Homo sapiens: one gene and its partner. The protein of the gene in region 2 purifies or fractionates together with the protein of the main gene of each other region. This does not show direct contact. Each region holds a gene or a part of one and is shown on either strand. Other genes may lie near its edges.

Region 1 (3,500 bases), on a different chromosome or scaffold from region 2:
CCCATACCAAGCATTGGGGCCAATTGTCTGATTTGTGTTCTATATCAACTTAAAACAATTTCGTATTTGGCTTTTGAGGGTAAAACATACACATAGATGTACCCCACACGTGAAGTTGTTGCATTAAAAGAGGACTTCTGAAGTCAGCAATCTCTAAACAGCGCTTATGTTAGAATTTCAGGCAGGAATGGGTAGGCAGGAAGTCCTTTTGATGAAGTAACAGCATTGTCTAATAACCCTTTCAAATTAAATCCCAGTATGCTAAGTTATCATTGATTCCATTATTTGTACAGGAAGCCCTTTAATATTGTTTAGCCATGACAGCAAATATAAAACTAAATACCCATTACTTATCAGTTATCCATGGCCTTTCTTCTCATGATTCTTCAGACTTTTGAACCAAGGAATAAACTGGTTCTACATTTTATTACATTTTTGTTTGGTTGGTTTCTGTGTGTGTGTGTGTGTGTGTGTGTGTGCGCGTGCGTGTGTGTGTGTGTGTTTGGTTTTTTGTTTCTGTTTTTGAGACAGGGTCTCACTCTGTTGCCAAGGCTAAAGTGCAGTGTTGTGATCTCGGCTCACTGCAACCTCCGCCTCCTGGGTTCAAGCGATTCTCATGCCTCAGCCTCCCAAGTAGCTGGAATTTACAGGTGTGCACCACCAGCCCCACCCAGCTAATTTTTGTATTTTTAGTAGAGACAGGGTTTCACCATGTTGGCCAGGCTGGTCTTGAACTCCTGACTTTGAGTGATCCACCCACCTTGGCCTCCCAAAGTGCTGGGATTACAGGAATGAGCCACCATGCCTGGCTGTTTCTACATTTTAAATGTATAATGTCTCACTATTAGCTATAACTACTGAGGTATAGATTTGTCTTTATTTATGGTAACAGTGTCACCTACTGGATTAGGCACATCGTATGCAACTCCCTTCCCAAACACAGGTGTTGTCAGGCGACTGTAGACATCTTCTGCATTCAGGTCTTCATTTTTACTATTAAAAAGCAGTGCAGCAGCATCACTCCCCAGAAGGTAAGTAAATGTCTTGCCTACCATGGTAAAACTAAATACAGGTCCATACTAAAAAGAGAAAAGTACATATAGTGATGTTACAAAAAATATGCAACACTACGACAGTAACTTTTTAAAATCACAAAATAATGCATTATTAAAAAAATAAAAACATATATAAACCTTAAAGCAATTCTTTTCATCTTGCCATACTCCTCCTTCCTTTGTCCAAATTTATAATTATGTTCATTTAGTTGCAAATGTAGTATAAATATAACTGTTTATTATGCTTTTTTCAGTTTATATTGACAATGTTTTCTATTGTCTATATAAACATCACAATGTTAATTTACTGACTACTCTTTCATTATTGGACATATGGGTGATATGTCAGGGTTTTCTTTAGTTATTACAGCTAATTCTGTGATGAACACCTCTGAAAATATAGACTTCTTCCCCCTTTGGTTAAAAACAAATTTTACAAGACTAGCCAAAGAATTTGACCTTTTCTATAGTACCTGCTATGTGAAGACACTACAAGTTTATTTATCTATTTTAGCACTATCTCACCTACACTAAATGACTTCATTTTTTATTTTATATTAATTTGGTTAGATGTTAAATACTTTCCCTTGCAGTTTTCTGGTTATGATTGAAGACTAGACTCTGGGGGTATAATCATGAAAAAAAATACTGTCCCAACTCACCAAGCTTAGTCTATTGGAAAAAATACAAATTAATCAAATAATCACATTAACAAACATAAAACTGCAAATGTGACAAGTATTACAGAAAGGAAAGCAACTCTGTGATGAGAGAATCTAAAAAAGGGAGACCTAATAGAGGAAAAGACAACTAGGTTGAGACCAGAAGAATGAGGAGCTGGTTTGGTAGCTAAACATACACAAAGGCCCTAAAAGTAAGAGAAAGAGAAAGGAGGAGATGAGAGTTGAGCATTAGGCAGTGCTAGACCATACAGAGCCTCATAAGCCATTTTGAGGAAGTTTTTAAACGGGTGACAAGAATTTTTCAGAGAAAAAGGAAAGATGCCATTGAAAAAGAAGTCAACAATACACTGAGAAAACAAATAAAAGTAAAAAGTTCCTGAGACAAAAGAGGGATGGAGAGTTCAGCCTCCGATAAGAGGCAAAATATAGTTGTAATAAAATCAAAGTGGTAGAACGCAGTGAGCCAGACTGTCCGTGTTCAAATCCCAGCTCCTCCACCTACTTGCTGTATGACTTTGGTCCTATAGTCAGAGAACTTAGTCTCTCTGTGTTTCGTTTCTCTCACCTATAAAATGGTAATAATAATAATAGCAGTTCTTCACAGAGCTGCTGCCAAATTTTATATACAGGGCAGAGAAGAGTACCTTGGCTTACTTAGCATCTTAATGACTTGTTTTCCATTATTGTTATCATTAATAAAAGTATAGGCTCAGAAATCAGACCATGTGTAAATCCTGGCTTGGCCACTGTCTAGCAGTGAGTCCAAGAAGAAATTATATATCCTCTCTGCTTCTCAGTTTTGTCATCTATAAAACAAATATACCTGAAAGGGTTTTTGTGGAGCTTCAGTGAGATGATCTTTGTAAAGCACTAAGTACTGGCATAAAGTAAGTGTTTGATAATTATTACTGTGATAGGAAGAAAGAGAATAGGATTACTATATAAATACAAGTAGGTTTGCATATTTGAAATTGAGAAAATGAGGAAGTTTTCTTTGAATGTTTTAATAATTGTCTCCTAAATCAACGTTTTTAATCATTGTCTCCTAAACAGGAGAAAAAATCATCTGCTTTGATGGAGAGGTAGAAAGATTCAGAAGTTTAGAAAAGTGAAGGTTTGAATTAGTCACTGTAATGAGTGGAAAAGTAGGCCCAATCACAAGAACATAATAGGACTGTGGAGCAGTGTTCAAATATCATTAAGGTAGGCAATCATAAAATCAGGAAGAAACTAATCTGGTGCAGAAGGAGACAATAACTGGCTGCCTCCAAGGGTGACTTCTGCCAGCTGAACACAATGAAAAGATGCGGGGTCGAGGAAATTTAAAGTACAGTATTGCCAAGAGTGTAACAGAAACGACATGCCATGGACCCAAAGCGGAAAGAGGAAAGTGAAGAATGAAGGCTGATGGATCAGGAGAAAGTAAATGGAATGCAAGATCCAATGAGGTCAAAGAATAGTTATAATTTAAGGAGTTGCACAAGCAAACCAGGAGACGGTATGGTCTACGAATAGGATATCTAAATTAATATTGTGGAAGTGAAACAGTTAAGAGTGACAAGTCCAAAGCGAGACTGTGAAGTAAATGGCTTAACTGGCACAGGGAAGCTCATTAGAGAGAAGACGGGCAAATAATTGAGTAGCTATGGTGTCATGTGGGTCATTCAAGTGGACAGTGAAATCACAGAAGATGTATAGAGCAGGTTAGAAAACCCCACAGATGCATGGTAAAGAAAAATGAGGGTTAATTAATATCAATTTT
Region 2 (4,196 bases):
CAAAATTTTCAGTGACAACTCAATAATGTGCTCCTGCCTTTCATAATAAAACTGCCTTGTTTATTCTTGGATATTATGTTTTTAATTTTAAGCAAGGATGGATGGCATCAGTCTAGAACTTCTCCCATGGCTGCATTAGAAACACATCTACATTAGAGGGTTGGCTCTTTGTCCTTGTTGGGAACCCAAATGCTCTGCACGCTCCTGTAAGCTATCTCCAATCCCACCAAAAACTTGAAACCAACACCATCTTCTGCCCTCCTGGATGGACCATGAAACCTTGATTTTCAGTCAGGTAAGAAAAGCTTATTCTTACTACTCTCCCCATGTAAGAAACTGTGTTTGAGGACCAGTCATTTGGACTTTGCTTCAAAAGGCACATTTATTCCAGTGGCAATTTAAATAAGTAGAGAAGGAAAAAAAAAGATTAAAAACAAAACAAACTAACAAAAACCAGGATGGGTTTTGTGGAATACATTAAAGTAAACAAAAATCTGGGGTCTATACAAACCACTCGAGCTCCTCACCAATAGTTTAACCAGAGTCCCTAAGGTAGAATTCACAGTTGTATCATGACACACGCCTTCAGAAAACACTGTTTAAGAAAGTAATTGAGAACTCTCAAGCAGCTTCCCCTGATGTCCAGTTCAAGTGTATGCAATGCAGAAGGCTGTGAAATTCAAAACTATGTGACAAAGAAAATTCAGTGCGTACCACAGGCTTTGATAAATTATGAAAAATCAATGTATATATTACTATTTAAATAACATCTGAAAAACATTTTGAAATAATTAACTTGTGTTCACATTCCATGCATTTTCTAGCAGGTTAAGCCCTGGGTTTGCGTCTTTGTGCCTGTTTCCTACAAAGCTCCATTCTTTTGACAAATCCAAGCATTCCTCAGACTGAAACAGAAGTTCCCAAGGATTCTATTTACCCTCTTTACTGTGTACCTGACCTCACAGGGGCTACTCCTTATTACCAATGGCACAGATGATTGGAAAAGCAAACTCTTTGGGGCTTTATTTGGGATTTTACTCACTGCCTTTGAGAAATCCCTGGATGTCAAAGACATCACCTGAATTTTTTCCAGGGGCAAGAACAAGTGACTATCTCCCTCCCGCTTGACCACCCCTGCCAACCTCCCTACTTCAAAGCCTCCAGTGGGTTGGGATCCCTTTGTAGCAGTGAACTTTTTCCCTATGGTTTTGCAGCACCTTCCTTGAGCAAAGAAGAAAACACAATGAAATTTGAAAACAAACCAACAATAGCAACAACAGAAACTCCAAACAGATGGGCGAACCAGTAGTCTCCTCCAAGGCGGAGGCTCACTTTTTACTGCAGAATTCGGAGCTGTTTAGGAACTTCCTGATTACCAGCCCCAGGCAGACCACCAGCAGCAGCATGTAGCCCACAGTACCCGAGAAAGTGGGTGCGGCAGGCGGCGCCTGGAGGAACTGGCGCAGGCCCTCTTCTACGTAGTACACCTGGTCGTAGATGCTGAGGAAGGTGAAGATGTGGAAGAGCTGGTGGCTGTGGCCGATAATGTCGAAAAGACCCGGCTGGATGCGCTCGGGGATCTTGCTCACGTTGAAGAAGGCGGCCACCACCAGCCAGAAGTAGCGGCGGTAGAAGTGCACGAAGAGTGTGGGGTTCTCCCCACGCAGGTCGAAGAGCCAGCTCTCGAGCATAATGGGGCAGGCCATGCTGAGCGGCATGACGAAGACGAAGGTGCGCAGCGCGAACGGGTAGGTACACCAGTCGGTACGGCTCTTGCAGCAGGCCACAGTGCAAGCCACCGCCAGCACGAAGGCCACAGGCAGCACCAGGGCGCGGTAGGCGGCGATAAGGCGCGTGCAGTCCACGTGCCAGCCCAGGCGCTGCTGCAAGTATGGAGTCATGACTCTGGCATCCAGCAAGCTGAGGCCTGGCAACAGGTAGTAGTAGTAGGCCACCGTGCTGCCGAAGCCGTAGTAGCTGATGGACGCGTAGTCCAGGTAGAAGAAGGCGGCGCGCAGACGCAGCGACAGGCAGCTGAACACGTGCGCCGTGCAGCTCATGGCGAAGGTCAGCAGCACTCCCGACGCGTAGCACCACAACGGTAGCAGCCACGGGTGGTGGAAGGGCACGTCGCCGCCGCTCAGGAAGAACAGACGGCAGAACTTGCTCAGGAACAGCAGCAGCGGGATGAAGTGCGTCCAGAAGTTGAGCGTCTCGTTGGTAGGCTTCAGCACCGAGGCTAGGCACTCCTGGGCCGTGCACGGCAGACGCCGGTAGCCCGACAGGATGAAGCACTCCACGAAGTCGTCGGGCACCTCGTCCCAGCGCAGCAGCGGCTTGGCAGACGCTGGGGGGTCCCGGGAGGCGGCAGAGTGGGAGTTCCGGGCGGCCCCCGAAGCTGCCGGGGCCGGGGCCGGAGGGCCTTTTGTGCCCGCGCCCCGGGGCTGCAGGCGCCGCGGCATGGTGCCCGGGGCTCGGCTAGGGCGCGCGCAGGCGACCTCTGGCGCCGGCTCCCGGGCGCTGGGCAGCCCCCGCCGGCCGCCGTCGGAGCCTTTGTGCCCACGCCGGGGGCGTCGCTGCAGGTTTAGGAGAAGACCCGTGCCTCCGAGCAGCCGCTCCTAAAAATTAAATAAATCAATAAGAGAATCAATTAATAGGCAGCGCTGCGACCGCCAGGAGCGCGGAGCGCGCGAGGCTCAGCGGCTTCCTCGCCAAGCCCCTGCTACCGGCGCGCGGCCGCCCGCGCTGCGGCAGCGGCGGCGGCGCGGCTGACTGCGGCGGCAGCGCGGCAGCGGTGACTGGGCATCGCGCGGTGCGGGTGCCTCCGCCGCCGCCGCCCCCGGAGCGGGAGGTGGGGATGTGCGAGCCGAGGCGCGGAGGGAGGGACGGGCGCACCGAGGAAGGGCGGGGGCCTCCCAGGCTAGGGTTTCGCGGCCGCTTCGGGGGATAGAGTTGTCCCCTGTCTCGAGTTCCGTACCATCCCCCTCCTCGGGCCGCCGCAGCCCGGGCCGCCCCGTTAATGATTGATGCGGGGGCCGCAGGCTGGTCGGCGACGCGGCGGCGCGCGCGCCGAGTACTAGAGTCGGCCCTGGGGTTCGAAACCCGACAGCCACGCGGGCGTTCTGGAGGACACTGGGGAGCCGCGTTCGCGGGGGGCGGGGAGCTGCGGCTGCGGGGGGAGGGGAGGGCGCCGGAGCCGGGCAGGGCGGAGAGATGCGCCAGCGGTAATCTCCGGAGGTCGCCGGGGAGGGGGGCACTCCGGAAGTCGGGGGGCTTTAAGCCCGCGTCCGGATCGGGGCCGTGTCATTGTCAGCTACCTGGGGATGCGCCTCTCGCTCCCTCACTGTCTTTGCGTGTGTGTTAGTGTGTGTGTGTGTGTGTGTGTGTGTGTGTCGGCCTGTCTACGCACTACACGAAGGCTTAGTTGGTCTTCTTTCGTCTAGTGGGCGCACTCAGGTGCGTCACCATTCTGCCGTTTCCCTCGCCCTTGTCCTGTCCGAAAGAACCGTCCGCAAGCTGCCCTGTGGTCGCGCTCACCAGCTCTTCGAGCCGCAGCTAACCCATCTTCTTGTTTTTGTGTCTTTAACTAGGACTTCTATTTGGAACTGAGTCCGACAGCTCAGGACTGGCTGCTCAAACTCCACAATTTAATGAAAAATCTCAGATGATGACTCAGAAAACCTCTAATGATCTGAGGAATATATTAAGGGATTCCAGAGTCAAAGGCTGATCATGGAGGGCATTGATGAGGGAAGACTTCAGGTAGGAGGTGCATTCTAGCAGGAACTGAAGAGAATGAAGTCCAGTTGGTAGAAACGGAGGGGGTGGCTTGGATAAATCTTATATGTAATTAATCAGAAGTACCTGGCAGGTGGCTGGAGACCAGAAGAAAGGAACACTGGAAGAATGAAAACGGTTGTGATGCACTGCAGTGTGAAAATATGCCCTTGAGCCTTAAAGAAAGGGGCTTAAGGCCGGGCGCGGTGGCTCACGCCTGTACTCCCAGCACACAGATCACGAGGTCAAGAGATTTGAGACCATCCTGGCCAACACGGTGAAACCCCGTCTCTACTAAAAATACAAAAAATTATGTGGGAGTGGTGGCGCACGCCTGTAGTCCCAGCTACTCGGGAGGCTGAGGCAGGAGAATCGCTGGAACCCAGGAGGCGGAGGAGGTTACAGTGAGCCGAGATCGC

What was found. The genes of interacting proteins can lie anywhere in the genome.
Region 1: the proteins of PAQR9 (region 2) and CYP51A1 purify together in Homo sapiens (affinity purification with mass spectrometry, with the first as the bait; one large-scale study listed by BioGRID). This does not show direct contact.

What each region holds. Positions count from the first base shown.
Region 1 is NC_000007.14:92,127,978-92,131,477, forward strand, and holds part of CYP51A1 (lanosterol 14-alpha demethylase), read right to left. Parts: intron 1,080-3,500; coding exon 903-1,079; intron 1-902. UniProt on the Homo sapiens protein: Sterol 14alpha-demethylase that plays a critical role in the cholesterol biosynthesis pathway, being cholesterol the major sterol component in mammalian membranes as well as a precursor for bile acid and steroid hormone synthesis.
Region 2 is NC_000003.12:142,960,875-142,965,070, forward strand, and holds the start of PAQR9 (membrane progestin receptor epsilon), read right to left. Parts: upstream 2,801-4,196; 5' UTR 2,463-2,800; coding exon 1,329-2,462; 3' UTR 1-1,328. UniProt on the Homo sapiens protein: Plasma membrane progesterone (P4) receptor coupled to G proteins. Seems to act through a G(s) mediated pathway. May be involved in regulating rapid P4 signaling in the nervous system.